Linked DNA regions of Homo sapiens. The protein of the gene in region 1 purifies or fractionates together with the protein of each later gene. This does not show direct contact. Each region holds a gene or a part of one and is shown on either strand. Other genes may lie near its edges.

Evidence for each region. Proteins that work in one complex are often made in the same cells at the same time.
Region 2: the proteins of SYT1 (region 1) and EIF2B3 purify together in Homo sapiens (co-immunoprecipitation; 3 studies listed by BioGRID and IntAct, with this or other methods). This does not show direct contact.
Region 3: the proteins of SYT1 (region 1) and VLDLR purify together in Homo sapiens (co-immunoprecipitation; 3 studies listed by BioGRID and IntAct, with this or other methods). This does not show direct contact.

What each region holds. Positions count from the first base shown.
Region 1 is NC_000012.12:79,294,740-79,301,777, reverse strand, and holds part of SYT1 (synaptotagmin-1), read right to left. Parts: intron 5,710-7,038; coding exon 5,542-5,709; intron 2,395-5,541; coding exon 2,227-2,394; intron 1-2,226. UniProt on the Homo sapiens protein: Calcium sensor that participates in triggering neurotransmitter release at the synapse. May have a regulatory role in the membrane interactions during trafficking of synaptic vesicles at the active zone of the synapse.
Region 2 is NC_000001.11:44,976,585-44,983,622, forward strand, and holds part of EIF2B3 (translation initiation factor eIF2B subunit gamma), read right to left. Parts: intron 4,594-7,038; 5' UTR 4,585-4,593; coding exon 4,437-4,584; intron 1,877-4,436; coding exon 1,731-1,876; intron 1-1,730. UniProt on the Homo sapiens protein: Acts as a component of the translation initiation factor 2B (eIF2B) complex, which catalyzes the exchange of GDP for GTP on the eukaryotic initiation factor 2 (eIF2) complex gamma subunit.
Region 3 is NC_000009.12:2,645,760-2,652,797, reverse strand, and holds part of VLDLR (very low-density lipoprotein receptor isoform a precursor), read right to left. Parts: intron 6,465-7,038; coding exon 6,246-6,464; intron 5,325-6,245; coding exon 5,206-5,324; intron 4,591-5,205; coding exon 4,451-4,590; intron 4,130-4,450; coding exon 3,988-4,129; intron 3,615-3,987; exon of another isoform or gene 2,429-3,614; coding exon 2,282-2,428; exon of another isoform or gene 1,384-2,281; coding exon 1,300-1,383; exon of another isoform or gene 925-1,299; coding exon 844-924; exon of another isoform or gene 19-843; coding exon 1-18. UniProt on the Homo sapiens protein: Multifunctional cell surface receptor that binds VLDL and transports it into cells by endocytosis and therefore plays an important role in energy metabolism.

The DNA.
Region 1 (7,038 bases):
AATATTTCCCATTAATAACTCCTACAGATACTCAGTAAGTGCAATGGTGAGAAAAAGGATAGCGAAGTAGATAAAAATAGAGGGAAGAGACACAACAAATGAGGAGATGAACACACAAAATGGGGAAAGAGAACACACACACAAAATTAACCAAGAAAAAGGTATGAGAGACCTCTCACTTAGTGAACATTTACCATATGCCAGACTCTATGCTGGGTACTTCATGTTCTATTCTATTTCATCGGTAAGTAAGATAAGGGGTAAATCATGTTAGGCCACTTTCTAGGTTAAAATTCTGAATGGGCAGTTTACCTAAACCCCTAGATTCTAGAGTGAAACCCGTCAGCCTGGTGTTAAGTTTCAAACTCTGCTCGTACTCAAAGATTTCTGAAAGAGGAAACTTGCTCAATGGTCCACATTCCCTTAGCTCAGAAAAAAACATTGCACAATTTTTCAGAAACCCACTGGGTGTGATCTTGGATGTCATTACCACCTGATAATTATCCAGGTGAAAGTAACAAGTGTGAACCATGCACCCTGCACAAGTGGGCATTGTGAAGTACCAGTGGTTCATGTTCTCATATTCAACCAACAAGCCAACCAAACACCAGTCAATTAATAAAACCAATCAGTTAATAAACATTTCTTATGGTCCTACTTTATCACCCAAAAAATTTACACAAAGTCAAACACTTCAACAAAAAAGTCAATGAAACATCCCACTACTTTGTTAAATAATTATAAACATTGTAACTGAATGATCGAATTTTTTTTTTCATGAAGATGTCTGTAACATTACTATTAGTTCACTTATAGGAAAGAACTATCCATAAAATCATATAATTTTAAAACTCGGTATTTTTCCTGGGTATTCTTGAATATCCACAGTAGGGCTAAATCTGTGTCAATGTCTAAGAAAGGTTAGTCAACATTCTTAGATATTGAGACAGTAAATATATATATATATATATATATATATATATATATAATAAGTATACATGAATATTATATACAAAAATACTTAAGCTCTGCTCTCTTTTTTGGAAAGTATAAGTATACATACTTTTTTCCAAAAAAAAGAGCAGAGTTTAACTTAAGTATTTTTGACTCATTTTGTAAAATCAAATAGCAAACAGCAATGTTAGAGTGAAAAGTTCAATTTCAGCATGGGAATTAATAGGCCTGTTCTAAAACCTCATTTCATCATATAGGGGGTATAAAGTTCATAGCCTCAGATTGGTCACAGAAAACCTTAGGCTGAGAGGATTCCCAGGTGATGGACTTGATTGAGTTTCTCTGAAGGCCTGACGTTCTCTCTGATCTCCCTGGTGACCCCAAGAGGCCAGGGAATCCTAGGGACCTGGAGATCCTAAATGACTGAGCTGTCAGCAATCTCTTGCGTAATTACAGCCTTACGTCAGGAACTAAAGAGTGACTGCGAAAGGAGTTGTTTTAGGAATTTGGAGAAGCTAAGGGTTGTTTGCTTTTCTAGTATTGGTCTACTGAAATGTTTGCAGAGAAAAATGCTGGTGCCAGGCAGGCATCGCATAATCAGATACAATTGATTATTATGAAGCTTAAATGCACTAAACATATTGAACTTCCCTTTTCAAGTCATGGAAAAATACTGGGCTAAACTATTAAAACTGGGAATAAACAATGTGAGGAGTAGCATAAAAATGTGAGTCATTTAAAAAATGGATTTAATATCAGGCTTTGTGAATTATATTTGATGTTTGACCAATCATGCTCTCGTATCTTTAGGAGAAACAATGAACTGTCTGTGATATGCAGAAACAATCAAGGAAAAAGTACCATTTTATTTCTGTGTAATAGCTACATAACCTATGCAGAAAACACAAAATGATTGTGGAAAAATGAGAAATAAAATAATTTTTCGTTGTCATTTTAAAGCAGTAGTTTATGAGTGTGTGTGGCCTTTTGTAAGCTTTTAGAAAGAGTTCCTGTGGGCATGTGTGTTTGTTTGTGTCCAGGGTTGCTGTTTCTAGATCCAGTACACAAATGTCTCTCTTCTTTCAGATAACACCCAGAAGACCTGTACACTTTTTAACGAGGTGGTGCAGTGCCCTTGACCCTATTTTATCAGCTGTCAACAACTAGAGGCCCACATCCCCCTTTGTAAAGAGTATTTCTCAATAAGTTATTATATGAGCAGCAACTGGCGAGTACAGCTTGTGATGTTAGAAATGCTAGTAATTCCCTTACCTCTTCCTTCTCAGCACTTTGCAGGTCACGCCATTCCTCAGTTACATGGCCAAAATCCACTGTGTTCATAGGGACTTTAAATTCTCCAATGATGTCATGCTTAGAGAAACGATCAAAATCATATACAGCCATCACTAGGGTTTTGCCACCCAATTCCGAGTATGGTACCTAAATTAAAAGACATGAGGATAAAATATCCAGTCACAAAAATGCTTAAAACATGTTACTTGTTCATGGTGCTTAATTTAATATTTACGTTGCATAAACAGAACAGGGAGATAATTTTGTTTTTGGTTATTTTTTAAATTCAGACTTTTGACAAACTGCTTGAGGCTAAAATTACTTGAGAGAAAATGGGAAATTTTAGTGATTTATTGCCTTATCTCAAAGTTCTAGAAGCTGTTAGCATTATTAATAATGGATCCTGCTGTTAGTTATACTATAAAGCCTTAAGATTAATAAAACAATAAACAAGCCAATTGCATTTGACTATAAGTAAGTTTTTCTTGTAGAATATTTTGTTGTTATTGTTGTTTTAAGTTGTATTGTCAGGGTGTAACTTACTGAGGGGCAAATAACTTATTTCAAATGCTCCATTAACTCTTTCAAGGCATTTAAATGCCACAGTTCAATGGAGCAATGATTTATTAAAGGCTATGCTAGGAGTCTGAAAGGATTGAAATGATATTCACAAGTGCCTCACCTACTCCCTAAAATAATTTGCTGATTGACAAGAACTGACTAGGAAATTGATGTTTTGAATATAAGAGGTGCATTATAATATGGGTTTTGAAGTTCATTCTTGGGTATGACATGCCTTAGGATGAGTGGTGGCAAAAGGCCAAGAACTGATGAATTCTCCAGCTGTTCAAATATATCTGGGACAGATGCTATGGGTTGGGATGTTTATTAGTGACATTTTTAATATTCAGTGAAAGCAGTGCAATCCAAGTAAGCTACACTTCAGTAACTGGGTAGAAATACCTAATTAAGAAATTGTTTAGACTTGTCTTAAAGGTTTGATCAATTTTCATACACTTCCTATTATTTTATCAGTGTAAATGGTTGTCTTATGCTTCAGCAAACATTTCTCAATTAACTCTGTATATTAAGGAGGGAAGAAAAGGAAGAATATTGGGCCATCTACATACAAGAAATTTTAGTTTTCCAAAGAGTTTTTCTTTTCTGTCATTTATTTACCATCTGTTTGGAACCTGATTATTTTATTAAAATGATATGATTAAAAAGTAAGCATCATCCTTTTTCCATTTTAGAAGGAATGGAAAATAAACCCTTCCAAAGAGCTGACTCTCAAAGAAAGAAACAAAATTTTTTAGAGTAAGGATAAACCCTTGAAAATGTTATTGTATATCTAAAATCTCTCTAGACTTTCTAGTGATTGTACTCAAAGAGCAACAGTCAAAAACCTGGACTTGGGGTCAGACAGACCTTGTACCAGATTTGGACTTTCCAACTAAAGGGCCTGGGGCACGTGATTAAACATAAGTTTATTCATCTATTAAATTGTGATAATACTGTAATAATGGCTGCTTCATGGGGCTATTTTAGGGATGAATGAATATATGTAAAACACCTAGCACAGAAGAAGCACTTAAAAATATTTATTGTTTGAATGATTAGTAGCTCCTTCAGATAACTGTTTTGGGGGAAAAGAAGATGAATTAATTTGGGGCATGTTGAGTTCCTGTTAAGTGATTTAAATCCATTGTAAAGCCAGGCTTCTTTAAAGTCTTTTATACTTCCATTCCTGTATCATATTGCCTCTTGGCATTTCAAGATGAGTAATCTACAATGTCTAACCAGTTCTCTAGAAAAATTGAAGTATTTTTTAATATAGCAGAATATATTATACTTTGGATTTATGTATAGTTTGATCAACCTTTCTGAAATAAAATGAAACTTGATAAAAATGTATAGAGAATTCAAAAATTTCAATAATTATACTTGGTTTTATAGAAATTACTAATAAAATTATTAGCATTTTTTAAAGAAATAATAATGTAGGTAATGCAATACAAAACAAAGCCCCAATACATTAGCTCATATAATTTAAGAATTTCCTTACTAAGTTTTGGTCAGAAACTGCTGACCTAAGTTAAGGTTAATAAATAGATGAATAAAACAACTGTGATTACTATTACAATATTTTTAAAATTTTATTTCCATTTTACGTTTCGTAGTATGTTGACTATAGTGATTAAGCTTCATGAGCAGATACTCTTCATGAACTGAGTATTTCCAGAATGTCTTTACTGCTACTTTAAATTCACTGCTTAGGTACAGAAAAACCAGATTTTAAATAAGATTACTGACAATACATGAGGGACCTTTGTCTTGAAAACTCAGAAATTTTAGAGTGAATAGAAAGACACTTCCCCTTTACATAATTGAAAACAAGGTTTGAGAAAATGACTCATGCCCTCATTTTCAATTTATTTCATCCCAGAATGTTTGCCAACACAAGGCATATGCTAAGCCTGGCTGATGGACGTGGTGATTTTGAATTAGCCTGCTGGCATATTCACAGATATTTCATTTTTCAGAAACATATTGTTCTAAGTAATGCATTAAAAAGTTTTTTTCGCACGTTAAAGATATCCACCAAAAGAATTGTTTTTAATGAATGATTTCAAGCCAAGATCCACGAAGATCCTGGAGACCTGCAGGACATGTTTTCCTGATGAGATATTATATGGCTGGAATCTCTCTGTTGTTTGTCAACTGAGGTGCCTCAACAAGATGAAGAACATCAGGGCAGAACCTAGAGTAAAGGAAGAAGGCTAGAAATGCAATAAAAAATATGTTCATATTCCTTTTATTGATTAGTTAAGAAGAATGACTTTGAAGTGCTCAAATTGCCCTCTACACACACAATTTTGTTACAAGAGTCATGTCTATTTGTACCATTTAAGCATTGGGACACAGCTTACTTAATCCTGGGATTGTAACAGATGTACTTATTTTCACAAACTTTGAAATTCAGAAAAATAATGATTTCATTCCTTTGGCTTTATTTCAGGGAGGGATCTCACTTTTTAGATGTGACTATGACATCCTAGTCATGTTCTAGTCCATTCCATTCTGAAATGACTGAACCGAATCCTACTCTGAACACGCTGAAAGGCAATATCGAATGTTGACTGTAGTGAAGATAAGAATTTTGCATATTCTGACTGGAATTATTGTGAGTGCCTGAACAAGCATTCATGTGCATGTCTATGTATGTGTCAGGATGAGATCAGTCTTTTAAGTAAAACAACAAAGGAAAGGTTATAAATAAATGTTAACAAATACCTTGAAAGTAAATTGCTCATTGAAGACAGGATTAAGGGTTTTTCGGTGGACTTTTGTCTCAAATTTCTTCTTCTTATCAGGTAGCAGAAACACTTTCACGTAAGGATCAGATGTGCCCCCCATGTCCAAGGCGGGCAGTTCGGCAGCCTGAATGATCCCTACCAGCAGCTGAAATAAATGACAGAATACAGCATACATAAATATCAGTGGACATTTTGGAAAAGATCGATTTGTTCACAATGCTGCATATTGGGATTTCTCCCTCTTCCTATTTATTTTTAATAAAACTCTGATTCTCTTATGAATCTGAACACAGAAGGCAAATGAACTGAGCTATGTAGACTTCAGAAACCCAATTATGACTGATGCAGGCTCTGGGAAGCCTGGTTTTAAGCACAAAAGAGGCTTTTAAAAGGTTGCTGATTGCAGTTAAATATGGAGTTCATTTTTGCAAAAGAGTTGTAATCAAATAACTTTCCAGTTGCTAAAAGCTCTTGTGCATTGTTTTTCTTTCCAGAGCATGATTTGTAAGTGAAAATGCATTGTTAAGCAATCACAAGTTTGTAATTACAAAGTGGGAAACTTTTATTCTTTATCAAAGCCTCAGGCTAGCTGAGTAGAAATTTCTTAGAAATTGGGTAGCATTTTGAGATAAAAAATAAGATCTTCTAGTTTCTATTATATTTGACCTTCACTGGTGTGCAGACTACATTTATTTTAACTTACAGTAGAATGATTATTATCTATGAGATTCTGTGTTTAAATATAGGACACGGAGTAAAAGAAATGTAATTTCAGCTTCATAGAAAGCAAGGGAGATTAGAGGTGAGGTTTTTTAATGGTGAGTAACTGTGTTTTTTATTTTTTCCAAACACCACAGAACTATTACATTTCTTTAAGTCTGTTTTCTTACTGATGCATTCTTAAGCCTCATTATGAATATTAAGGTATTATGGTATGGTTAATATTTTTGCGAAGAAAAAAAGAGGTGTGAGTAGACTATCATAGATACTCTGCCATTAGAGATTTTGTGTCAACAGACTGATTTAGATCCATATAGGTAACAAAGCAGACTCTTACTGTTATTCAAGGTATATGCTATTTTGTAAATGCAGTAACACCATAGGTTTTTACATCTCAGCCTGAAAAATCTGAGTTCATGCCTTTTTAGCTAGTAGAGTAAAAAAGCAATTCCCCCTCTTAAAAAAAATGCATAACCATTTTAATTGTGACCCACCGTGTACTTAAGTGCATTTTGGCTAGGTGGCTCAACTTTTAACATGGCCCAATAACCTGAATGATTATGTTGTTTCTATTTTAATGCTTCAATATCTTTTTTTTTTTTTGTGGAATCATGATACAACAGTGGCAATAAGAGTGCTAGATTGTAGGTAAACAAAACACAGACAGATGGTCAAAAAACAGCTAAAATAGGCATCGGATTATAAAGACATGATTAGTAAAGGAAACAGTCTGTCTCTTTGTTTGCTAAGTAGG
Region 2 (7,038 bases), on another chromosome or scaffold:
AAAGACCTGCAGAACAATGCTCATAATAGCTTTATGCATGATAGCCAAAAATTAGAAACAACCCAAATAACTGTCAATAGGAGGATAGATAAATAAATAGTAGTATATTCATTCAATGGAATACTACTAAGCATGAAAAGGAACAGATTAGTTATACTTTCAATAACATGAAAGAATCTGAAAAATATGTTGAACAAAAGAAGCCAGAACAAAATTGTATGTTTCCATTTATATGAAGTTTATAAGCAAATAAAATTAATACATAGTGATAGAAACAGAAGAGTGGTTGACTCAGAAGATCAGAGACTTACTAGAAAGAAGCACAAAGGAACTTTCAGGGGTGATGGAATTGTTCTAGATTTGGATAATGGTAATCTAGGTGTATATTTAGTATCTGTGCATTTTACTGTGTATAAATTATTCCTCAATAAAAGGGGTGGGAAAGCCATGTACATATTTGCATTAATTTTTTGTTTTATAGTACAAAAGTCGGTTGAAAATAACACATCCGTTTAATCACCAGAAATAACAGAAGAAAGTTTGTCTCCCATTTCAAGTAATATGGCAACATCACAACGATTGAATTTTTTCCAAAGAAAAACAATTTTAGAACAATCTACAGTGGATCTTTCTCAGCTCATGGGCCACAAACCATTGGGGAGACTATGTTCTCATATCTATGTGCTCCTTAGTTTCTTAACCAAAGGTTAACTAAAAGTTCAAATATTACATGGGAGGTCTATGAATTTTTGAACGTTCCTTTGTACTTCTTTCTAGTCAATCCTCACCTGCAGAGTCAACTGCTCCTCTGATTTATACATTAACATTGCTTGTTCACAAACTTCATATGAATGGAATCTTTTGAAGTACATTTAGAGTATATCTTTTTTTTTTTTTTGAGATGGGATCTCACTCTGTTGCCCAGGCTGGAGTGCAGTGGCATGATCTCGGCTCACTGCAACCTCCACCTCCTGGGTTCAAGCGATTCTCCTGCCTCAGCCTCCCCAGTAGCTAGGATTACAGATGTGCACCGCCATGCCCAGCTAATTTTTGTCTTTTTAGTAGAGACAGGGTCTTACCACGTTGACCAGGCTGGTCTCAAACTCCTGACCTCAAGTGATCCACCTGCCTTGGCCTCCCAAAGGGATTACAGGCATAAGCCACTGTGCCTGGCCTAGAGTATGTCTTTTTTTTCTTTTTTAATAAAAATGTGCTATTACTCAAAAACATTGGAAACCAGTGACTATGACAAATTAATGTCTAAATCTTTACTAGTAACCAAATCAAAGAGCAACTGAAGAGTACATGGGTAACAAAGTATGTGATGTAAAAATATATCAGAAATAAAGTTTTGTAAACTATAATGCACTGGGGGCCAGGCGTGATGGCTCACGCCTGTAATCCCAGCACTTTGGAAGGCCGAGGAGGGTGGATCACCTGAGGTCAGGAGTTCGAGTCTAGCCTGGCCAACATCCCATCTATACTAAAAATACAAAATTAGCCAGGCACGGTGGCGTATGCCTGTAATCCCAGCTACTTGGGAGGCTGAGGCAGGAGAATTGCTTGAACCCGGGAGGTGGAGGTTGCAGTGAATTGAGATCACACTACTGCACTCCGGCCTAGGTGACAGAGCGAGGTTCTGTCTCAAAAAAAAGACTATAATGCACTGGGAAAACATAAGATATCATCTATCTTCAATAAACAAGAAGAGTCAAAAAATTGCTTTTCACCTTAAGTTTTGGATATATGTAGCGCAAAGAATCTGCAGTTCCCATGTCAGCGTCATCAGGAATACACACAATATCTGGCTTCATTTTCATCTTGAATTCTGCACATAGAGCCTTTTGAACATCCCTGGTTGTAACCACAATGACTTCTATAGGACAAAAGAAAAAAAGAAAGAAAAACAAAAACTTACTCATATAGACAGTGGTTCCATTATTTCAATTAGATTTGGTCTATTTCTAGGTGTAATAACAACTGCTAATATTATTGTGCCTTTTCAATATATTTTACCTGCATTCCCCCAATAAATTCTTTTTTTTTTTTTTTTTTTTTTTTTTTTTTTTACAGACAGGGTCTCACTCTGCCACTCAGGCTGGAGTGCAGTGGCACTGTCGCAGTTCACAGCAGCCTCAACCTCCCAAGATCAGGCAATCCTCCCACCTCAGCCTCCCAAGTAGCTGAGACTACAGGCATGTGCCACCATGCTTGGCTAATTTTTGTATTTTCTGTAGAGATGAGGTTTCGCTCTGTTGCCCAGGCTGGTCTCCAACTCCTGGGCTCAAAGGATCCGCCAGCCTTGGCCTCCCCAAGTGTTGTGATTACAGACGTGAACCACTGCATCTGGCCTCCCCCCAATTAATTCTTAGAACAATCTCATCTTACAAATGAGGAATCTTGGATTAAAAGACATGCTGGCTGGGCGCAGTGGCTCATGCCTGTAAATCCCAGCACTTTGGGAGGCCGAGGCAGGCGGATCACTTGAGCCCTGGAGTTCAAGACCAGCCTGGGCAACATGGCAAAACCTTGTCTCTATAAAAAAACTCCAAAAAACCAGAGGTTTAGGTGGGAGGATTGCTTGAGTCTGGGAGGTGGAGGTTGCAGTGGGCCAAGATCACCCCACTGCACTCCAGCCTGGGTAACAGAGTGAGTCTGTCTCAAAACAAACAAACAAACAAAAAAAAACCTCAGGTCTATATGAATGGTGCCCACACTTTAATATATTATATGCCACTTCTCCTTGATATGAAGAATTCAGAAGAACATTAATCAAAAATACAAATGGGAAGAAATATAAAAAACACTCTGGGAAGCCAAGGCAGGCAGATAACTTCAGCCCAGGAACTCAAGACCAGCCTGGGTAACGTGGCGAAACCCTGTCTCTGCCAAAAAAAAAAAAAAAAAAAAAAGGAGGAAAGAAAAATTATCCAGGTGTGGTGGCATGCATGTAGTTGCAGCTACTCAGGAGGCTAAGATGGGAGGATCGTTTGATCCCAGGAGGCAGAGGTTGCAATGAGCTGAAATCATGCCACTGTACTCCAGCCTTGGACGACAGAGCAAGACTCTGTCTCTAAAAAACAAAAAAACCAAAGGGGGCCATGCGTAGTGGCTCACACCTGTAATTCCAACACTTTGGAAGGCCGAGACAGGCAGATCACTTGAGGTCAGAAGTTCAAGACCAGCCTGGACAACATGGCGAAACCCTGTCTCTATTAAAAATACAAAAAAATTAGCCGGGAGTGGTGGTACACGCCTGTAGTCCCAGGTACTCGGGAGACTGAAGCAGGAGAATTGCTTAAACCTGGGAGGTGGAGGTTGCAGTGAGCTGAGATCACACCACTGTACTCCAGCCTGGGCGACAGGGTGAGACTCCAACATTTTAAATCTTCATTCAATACAAAGAGAGAGCTATTAAGCTACCACCCTTCCTATTGGAGGCAACTCTAATAATGGAATGAACACTGGATCACAAGACTGGGCCTCAGGCTTTGGCACCCTGATTTATTACATCTAAATATAGGACACCTCAAACTCAATGTGACCAAAGCTGAACTCATTATTTTAATGAAAATAAAATTCATTAAAACCTTTTCCTGGCCAGGCACGGTGGCTCATGCCTGTAATCCCAGCACTTTGGGAGGCCGAGGTGGGCAGATCACGAGGTCCTGAGATCGAGACCATTCTAGCTAACATGGTGAAACCCTGTCTCTACTAAAAATACAAAAACTTAGCCGGGCATGGTGGAAAATGCCTGTAGTCCCAGCTACACAGGAAGCTGAGGCAGGAGAATCACTTGAACCCGGGAGAGGTTGAACCCTGGCGGAGGTTGTAGTGAGCCAAGATCGTGCCACTGCACTCCAGCCTGGGTGGCAGCGTGAGACTCTGTCTCAAAAAAAAAACACCTGTTCCTTGTCTCCTATTCCTTTTCCTACTTAATGGCATAACTATCTACCTAGCTACCCAAGCAAAAAGTAGAGAGGATCACTAGACTTTAAAGTTCTGGAAGTCAGGGCCTGAGCTGTCTTTTCAATTCTGTACCTCCGTGTTTAATATATAACCTGGTACTTACATCAAAACAAAATTTAAAACATATATATATTGAATATCAGATAATATAAATATTACCTGGTACATAATAGATTCTCAGTAAGTACTGACTATGAGGCATTTAAGAGTCTCAATCTGCTCTTTCTGATATCTTTACAGAGTTCGTCTTGGATCATTGTGGACATCAGCTCCATAACAACAACACTTAGTGCTATCCTCTCAACCTTTTTCACACAGCAATAGAGTACTCCTACATTCCTTAAAGAAGGCAGTCTTCAGCCAACGAGTTCTAGTCACCCTCTCTCATTCTCATAACGCTGACAAATCATGGGGATCAAATCTCCTAAAAGTTTTATGAGTTCACAGCTCACTTTGTCATAGCTCACCTTCAAATCCAACACGCTCAAGCAGGTTCAATGGGTACCAAATTAAAGGTTTGTTCCCAACTGGAAGCAGAGGTTTGGGAATGCTGGAAGTTAGGTCTGTCATCCGAGATCCTCCACCTACTGCCATCACTACTGCTTGAAATTCCATTTTTACAAACTGCAAGTACAGAAAAAACAATTAACAGAAAAAAAACAATGTAACAAAAATCAAAGCACACATACTACTAGCCTATTTTTATTTAGGTTACTGATACCCACTATGTCAAATGCATAATTCCTAACTCTAGCAATCACAGTAAGAAAAGCTTAGCTGCAGATAAACATTATGTCTACCAATATGTATTCTCAGTTCTATCCTTGGTAAAAGTGGGAGGATAGGAATGCAGGGGCTTTGCCCTTGAGTTATTCACAATTAAGTGGAGAAGACAAATTCAGTAAATCACAATATATGTCATTAGTGCCACAGCAGAAAAATATCCAAGATACAGTGGGCATACAATAAAAGGAACACCTAGTTTTCATTGAAAACACAGAGAAGTTTTTATAGAAAGTGATGCTTGAGCTGACTCTGAAGAAGTAAGAGTTTACCAAGTGGACTTCTGATGTGTGAATTTTTATTCTTTGAAAATATTAGGCTGGGTGAGGTGGCTCACATCTGTAATCCCAGCACTTTGGGAGGCTGAGGTGTGTGGATCACATGAGCTCAGGAGTTCGAGACCAGCCTGGGCAACATGGCGAGACCCCATCTCTACCAAAAATACAAAAAATTAGCCAGGGGTGGTGGCTTGTGCCTATGGTTCCAGCTACTTGGGAAGCTGAAGTGGGAGGATCATTTGAGCCTGGGAGGCAGGTGTTGCAGTGAGCCGAGATTGAGATTGGACCACTGCACTCCAACCTGTGTGACAGAGTGAGATCCTGTCTCAAAAAAAAAAAAAAAAAAAGAGAGAAAAAAGAAAATATTAAAAGATGCCTGACTAGAATTAACAGCAGAAACACAAGCATGTTAGGCTTCTGAAAAGTATGAAATGACTTAAGACTCCTCCAATAATTCAGCCATCGGCTCATCTTATTCCTCCAATTTTTAAAGATATCACTATAAACACAAACGTAGGCTTGTATCTGAACCTAGATTTACAGAACACAATTATAAAAACAAACCAAACTGTTAATTCCTTTTTTCAAACTCAAGGTAATAAACAAACCTATTTGACTTTGAAAAGAATCTCTTTACAGAAACTACCACAGAACAGAGGCACAGTAGAAGGTCATAAATCTTTATTTATGTATTTATTTTTGGAGATGGAATTTCACTCTTGTTGCCAGGCTGGAGTGCAATGCCGTGATCTCGGCTCACTGCAACCTCCACCTCCCAAGTTCAAGCGATTCTCCTGCCTCAGCCTCCCGAGTAGCTGGGATCACAGGCATGGGCCACCATGCCTGGCTAATTTTGTATTTTTAGTAGAGATGGGGTTTCACCATGTTGGCCAGGCTGGTCCCAAACTCCTGACCTCAGGTGATCCACCGGAGTCGGCCTCCCAAAGTGCTGGGATTACAGGTGTGAGCCACGTGCCCATCCTATTTATTTATTGTTTATTTAGAGACAGAGTCTTGCTCCATTGCCCAGTCTGGAAGTGCAGTGGTAAGATCATGGCTCACTGCAGCCTCAACCTCCTGCACTAAAGCAATCCTCCTGCCCCAACCTCTGGAGCAGCTGGGACTACAGGTGGGTACCACCATGCCTGGCTTTTTTTTTTTTTTTGAGACGGAGTTTCTCTCTTGTTGCCCAGGCTGAAGTGCAGTGGCACGATCTCAGCTCACCACAACCTCTGCCTCCCAGGTTCAAGTGATTCTCCTGCCTCAGCCTCCCAAAGAGCTGGGATTATAGGCATGCACCACCACGCCCAGCTGCCCAGCTAATTTTGTATTTTTAGTAGAGACAGGGTTTCTCCACATTGGTCAGGCTGGTCTCGAACTCCCAACCTCAGGTGATCTGCCCACCTTGGCCTCCCAAAGTGCTGGGATTACAGGTATGAGCCACTGCACCTGGCCGCCTGGCTAATTCTTTTAATTAATTTTTTATAGAGATGGGGTTTCACTATGCTGCCCAGGCTGGTCTCAAACTCCTGGCCTCAGGCCTCCTGCCTGGGCCTCCCAAAGTGCTGAGATTAGAGGCATGAGCCACTGCACCTGACCGATCTTTACTGATTTAAACTGAAAGTACTTTCTCTTACAATGATGTAATTTTAAGAACAAATGTGTTAAAATGTAACGTTCAGAAGAAACAATCTATTCAACATCAAATTGCCAAATAATGTTGCAACTTTACTATAATTATTATTACTCCTGGGCCCAGCACATCAACATCTAAAGTGCAGCACTTAACACCTACTATACCCAAGGCACAAAGTGAAGGCTCCTGCATAACATTCACAATGTAAAGATATGGTCATGTAGATTCTAGCAAGCATTGCCTCAAAGTGTAATTTAATTTCATTTTGGTATTATATAACATCCACCACATCAAATGTTATTATGAAAAGAGCACTGGACCCTTAAGAGTCAAAAGATGAGCTGGACGTGGTGGCTCACGCCTGTAATCCCA
Region 3 (7,038 bases), on another chromosome or scaffold:
CTGCCATCACTAAGAGCACTGAAAAAAATCAGAGGGTAGCTAAGTGAGCTAAGTCTAGTATTGGAACATACAAGAAAGGTAATAACGTTCAGGAATCCATAATAATTGACATTAGTAAAAATGCCATGTTTTATGGAGCTAGGATAACTAGAAGTTGGAATACACATGGGCCAGGAGCTTGAAACAAGTTCAGCCCAGAGGTAGCTCTGTGCACTGGAGCTGGACTAGCCACATCCATCCAGGCAAGGGCAGGGTCCTCGGTCCCACCTTAGGCTCACCAAATTAAAATTGCAGAAGGTTCTGGAGAGCTATTCAGGTGGTCCTGGCGTGTTAGCTAAGCTTGGGTCTCTTCATTTAGGACAAAGGTTTTTATAGCAAAGTCCTTAGAATTTGCGTGTCTCGTTTAGAGGTCCTTTTCCATAGGTTTGAAAATTCTTAACTGCTTTTAATTTATCCTCAACAAGTCCTGTAACTCTTAGCATTTAAGCATTTGTGCATCTCCTCTGTATGAAGCATTACACACATTTCAAAGGGGGAACAGAACAGTACACTAGTTAAAGAGACTTATTATAAAAGGGGATAAGCCAGGTTAACAGTGCGGAAGTAGAAAGCATTAACCGTTGAACACTTATCATTGCCAGTTACTGTGCCAAAGGTACAACTGAAGAGAAAGATATGGGCCTTAATTTAGTGTATTATGTGGGGGAGAAAGCGAACGTAATTCAGTGTCATAAATGCTAGACAGCATAAAGGCCCATGAAAGGGGTAGCTCCAGATGAACAAAAAATCTTCATCTGGTATCTAAGAAGTTCTTGAACCCAGACTTGTAGGAAATCTACTTACAGAGAGGAAGAATGGCCCATGCGGCAGAAGTCCCTTTTGGGGGAACACTGACCTCTGATACTGCTGTGGTCACATTGATCCCTACAGAGGAATAAAAGGAATCAGTTTAGAAGGATCTGTATTCAGACTTAGAAATTTACCCATCAGGTAAGGAGCCAAAACCTTTGCATCCAATATTGATGTTCAGTATCTACAACAATTGAACACCAGGAACAACTCTGGCTTAGAAGTATTTGAGTCACATGCTGTAGTAGCCATTTCACTGACAGTTCTCTACTAGAAACCTTTAAGATCAGTCAGGAAAAGATATGCAAGTTTTAAGTCTTTGGTGTTTAAATATAGGTTACCAATTGGGGCAGAAATAGTAGTTAAAGGCTGCATTAATTATTTAAGCTGTAGATACAAAGAGTGTGGCTGTTAGTTGAGATTAACAGTTTGCAGTACTGAACTCAATACCTCCAGGAACTAGTCCACTAGTTGCTGAAATTTCTGTTGTGTTCGTATCTTTTGTCTCACTGTAAGTCACAGTAGTTGCAGTACCTGAATTATAAAAACCAAGAACCTGGTTAATGCCAGGGTTCCAGCATGGCTAGCTGTTTTGTCCAGACAAGCCATGTAAAAGGTTATTTTAAAACCAGGTAAAATAGACAAACCACTGCTGAACTAAGTTGTACAGCTGATGTGTCAACATTGAAATAGCAATCTTCATGCAAAAAAGAGATACATGAAACTTTGGGAAGGACAGTCGGTGTTTGGAATTTGACAATTCAAAATGATGGACAACCACATTTTATCCCTCTAAACAACATCCCATGTTCCTGGAAACTACGAGAAATGTTCTCAAGATGCTCTGGTATACCAGGCATACCAGACTGTCTTGCAACTAATTTCTTGGTAAACTGAGCTAATCCCTGCCTGACCATGAATTACGCTAATAAAAACCTCATCAGCCTCACCATACAAGCTCCTTGATCACACAAATGACTTTAATTTGCCACTTAATCAAAAGTTAAGAACAGAAGACTAAATGCAAATTCAGCCTAAGTGTTATTTTAGGGTAGCGTCACCCACTGAGGCAATGAGGTTTCTGTAACCATGGCCTTCCTTAAGCATAATTTCTGTCCTCCTCCTTTTGAGGAAAAATGTTAAGGCCTCATTTAATTACCTGCAAGTTGGCTAGCTCAGTGCTGTTAAGGGACTAGGTACAAATTAGTGTAAGGTATGTTGACACTTTAGTCTCCTATAAACTCATTTAATGTTGAAATGGGTTAAAGTCAGTTCTAAAGAAATGACATGATAACCCGGCATACAATAGCAGATATCTTCTCAAATCTATTCAAAGAATTAGCTAAGACAGAATTCTTAAAAATCCAAGCTTGTGTCTTATTATATTGCTTGTTGTAGGTTCTACTTGTGGTTGAAACACAAAATGCCTTACTTTGACAGTCTCGGCCATTTTCCTCTACATTGTACCCACTGGGACAGGAACAGGTATATTTTGGAGAGTGATCATTAATCTGTGGTGCTGGCAGGCATAGGTATTCACATCCTCCATTCTCCATGTCTTCTTCACACCAATTTTTACCTAGTCAGGAAAAAAAATACCATTAAAATGGGTATTCCGGTGCCTAGTATATATAAAGCCTTGTTCTACATGTTGAAGACCTGAGTCCTTGCCCCCAAGAGCTTAAACTTGTCTACTCTGCTAATCCTTCAAGTGAGAACAGTATCAAGGAAGAATAAGTATACAGGTACAGGCAGCATGCTCTAAGGACACCAGATAAGGGACCTCTTCGAGATAGACTGTAAAAGTTATGCCTTTAAGAGACAGATGCCAAAAGAGGAGGTGGGGAAGGGAGGTGAGGGACCAGGACTGGCTCTCACTATTTGCCCGAGGTTTAGCGTGAAGGCTCAGAGAAAGGAGACTAGGCATGTTCTCCTGGTTTTCTCTTGACTTGCTCCAACAAAGTGGAAGGAAACTCAGCCTTAGGAAGGTTTGAAGGCTTTATTTAGATAGAACCAGCCAAGTGTTTTCAGCAGGAGATAATATAACCCGATGTGTTTGAGAATCTACACAATCCTATATCAGGTGTGTCACAGGGGGAAAGTAGGTGTTATGAGTTGAATGGTGTTCCTCCCTAAAATTCATATAATGAAGTCCTAGTACCTCAGAATGTGATCTTATTTGGAGATATTGAGGATAGGATATTTACAGAGGTAATCAAGTTAAAATGAGGTCATTAAGGTGGGCTCTAATCCAATATGACTGTTATTACAGCTCACGCCTGTAATTCCGGCACTTTAGGAGGCCGAGGCAGGCAGATTACTTTGGGTCAGGAGTTCGAGACCAGTCTGGCCAACATGGTGAAACCCCATCTCTACTAAAGATACAAAGTTTAGCTGGACGTGGTGGCTCACTCCTGTAGTCCCAGCTACTCGGGAGGCTGAGGCAGGAGAATTGCTTGAACACAGGAGGCGGAGGTTGCAGTGAGCCGAGATTGTGCCACTGCACTCCAGCCTGGGTGACAGAGCAAGAGTCAGTCTCCAAAAAACAGAAAAAGAAAGAAAGCAAGAAAGCTGGACACGAGCATATACAGAGGGACGATGATGTGAAGAGACAAAGGGGGAAGAGCACCATCAACAGACCAAGAAGAGGCCTGGAACAGACCCTTCCCTCACAGCCCTCAAGAGGCACCAACCCTCCTGGCACCTTGATTTCAAACTTCTGGCCTCCAGAGTTTTGAGACAATAAATTTCTGTTGTTTAAGATAGTCTGTGGTACTTCATTGCAAAAATCCTAGCAAACTAACAGTAGAGAAAGCTTGTAGCACAAAAGCTACTTTGGAGGCTACTGCAATAGTCTTGGCAAGAGGGGCTGAAGGCCAAGGGGACATGAATGAAACAGAAATAAAAGCTCTGACACTGAGGCTTGGGAGGAAAGCCAGGAGCTGAAGTTGAGAAGCCATTTCTCTGAGGCAGCAGAAATAAAAAAATAACATGTGAAATGTTTAAGGTAGGGTACAGGAGGGCAAAAGTTCCCTTTTAAAGAAAACTGAGTTGCCAAGAGCTACTGACATCCAGCAGGTTCTGTGTCATGCTGCTTCCCTTAAAGTAGTTATTAAGGACTGTGCTTCTCCACGGTACCTGATGGCTGTACAAGTTCATGATAGACAATGATGTCTTGGGCATCATTCAGGTTGTTGACTAGAGTGGCTAGCTCTGATCCAGTGAATTTATTGGCACCATAGACTGCTTCATTTTCCCCATCTATCCAGTAGACACGATCCTAAAACAGAAGCCCACAATTAGCATGTACATCCAGGATTAACACAAGTCCATTTCTAAGGTCATCATCATTTACTTCTCATTTAATGGACTAAGTTTACTGAATGCTGAACTGGGACACTGGATATAAAACTGTAAAAGAATCAAGTTTAGGTGTGGAGTGCTTCTGGGACTTAGTGTCTGATTTGTACCAGGTTTTAAGTGAAAGCAGTTTCTCAAGCCATGTTCAGCTGCTCTTCCCTCCTCCCGCTATGTCTGTTATTTCTTCTCAAAGTGATATAGTAGCTCAAAGGTACACACTTTGATGTGAGACACATCTTACCTCAAATATTGTTAGTGCAAGAGGATGAGCTAGGAACTCCAGAGACTTTAGTACTATCCTACGATCTTGGCCATTCAAGTCCACGCTGGATAACATGTGCAACTTAGAATCAAGCCAATAGAGGCGACTTTTTATAAGGTCTAGGTAGGAAAAGAATTGTCATTACATGACAAGCCACTACTACTCTGGCTTCCATTAAAAATATCTAATGAATTAATAATCTACTTTCACGGTTCTTTCCCCAGCAGGGTTTCTTAACGGGGTCACCATAAACCTTGCGAAGCAGCATGCAGAGCCTGTATCCACGTTCATTTTTGGGGACTAACAGGGTACCTGAGATTCTCAAAGCAAATGACTTAAGAAATATTACTCACATTACAGAAAATATTAAAAGAGGCTACCATTTTGTTGTTCTCCTCCAAAAAGCCAGAAGAAAACTGTTAAAAGCCTGCAATTCAGGAAATGCTAAGGCACTCATGCCCAGAATATTTAGTATGAGTGCACCCAAGACCCAACGTTCACTGAATTTGTGTCACATATTAGGCCCAGCTGGACAACAGGCCAGTAATTATGGAATGTGTAATTTGTTAATCCACCATTTTACTTGTGTTGTTCAGTTACTCCCATTGAAAATTCCTGCTAGAATTTAGGCGGAAGCAGTAGAGTCATCTGCTAGTCCAGAATTCACCATGGAGATAAATGGAAACACTATGAAGATAGTTGAGTGGGTGGTCGAGAAGGAAGAACATACATACCAAGTGTAATTCCGTTAGGCCACTGGATATCCGCTGTCACCAGTGGACGTCTATCGAATCCATTCATTCCTGCTTTTTCTATTTTAGCTGGTTCACCCCAGTCTGACCAGTAAACAAAGCTGTGAAAAATTAAATGAGAAATAAGCCTCAGTGGTTTAGAAGGAATAAAGTTGTAGTAGCTGGAAACAAAAATTTAAAATTTGAGCAGAAAACTCAAGGCATTCTCTAGTGACAAATAGTAACACTTAAGGGTCTAAATTATGTTCTAGGTAAATAAAATTGAATATTAAGAATCTACAAGCTCATTATTAACTATAATAATCTATGTTTGTCTGACATTTAAATTTCGGCCCAAAGTCACAAGGTTATGTTTCCTTTTTAAAAGGTCAGTTCTTACAGAGGAGTGCAAGACGAACATCCTTCAAATTTCATAGCAGGGGTTGGCTGGCTGACTGAGTTCTAATGAGGCTGCACGGGGGCCAGTTGTGATGACAACTACAGCCTTAGTCAACTTCCTGAGCTGCTCTTCTATGTTACTTAGTGGCAATTTACAGAACCCCCTTAGTGAAATGTTTCTAGAAAGGTCTGTTTATTTCTGCTGGACTTTCAGACAACTTGCACACTTAGATGCAATGTGGTTACCCAAATCCTCACAATTCAGGCTGTCGTTTAGGTTTGATCATCCAGAGCTAGCCCAGCAAAGCTTTCAGTCAAAAATTAAAAAATCACTTGCGTAGAAACTGGGTGGACAAAAGGGTTCAGATACAGCTTTTGGTACACACATCAAATCAGGAATGTTAATTCATTAATGTCAGCCAGCAATCAGTCATACGAGAGTCAGACAGGAGGACCTGTCATATAGATAAGGACATCCCAGGGTCACTCACCTGGGGCAAAACTGATATCTTAAATTAGAATTCTAATTCTTTGTTGCAGAAGGCTCATAAACCTTGAGATTTGAGTACTAATTCAGGTATGAGAAAGCTCCTGACCTACACAGATACCATTCCAAAGTCTGTGATGGAAAACAGACTACAAACCCAGACAGTGGGTCCACAGCTATGGAGGCAGGCTCTCGCAAGTCAGAGTTAAACAGGAACTTCCTCTTGGTTCCATCTAGGGTAGCTACTGAAATAGTCTTAGAAGCCGCATCAGTCCAGTAGATGGTCTTGTACACCCAATCAACAGCAATGGCTGCAGGATTATAGACATTGTCGATCATTTTAACATGTCTACCAACCTTGTCATCAATTGAGGCACTGAAACAGAATAGGTCACAAGAAATTTAAGAGTTTGACACAATTAGAGCTTGGAGAATGGACTTTTTGCTTACAAAATGGTCAATGACTTTGTTCAGAAAGAAATCCAGTTAACACCACAGCTCACCACTCAAATTATTTAACCATGCTGCTTACTGATCCTAAATTAATAATGCTGTAGATTATCTAGTTGCTGGTATGTATTCTATATACAAGAACAACAAATTTCTAAGTGAAGCTATTTGTTTCAGTATCCATCATCTGAGTTTCTATAGTTCCCATTAAGAAAAGGCTGTACTACCATTTCTATTTGTAGCAACAATGAACAGTTCTCAATTAACTGTAGAGAAAAGGGAGAAAATATAAAAAATATGAAAGATGTCATCTTTTACTTCATAGACAATTGTTAGTTTCTAATTAGGAAGTGATAACAGTTTAATAAAGAATTAGCATTAGATTTAATGTCCCCAGGTAATTCGATGCTAGATGGGGCTAGACACAAAAGAAACTCCTCCAAACTATCCCACAGATCACTTCCCAAGTGACAATGACTTATGTCAAGACACCACAAAAG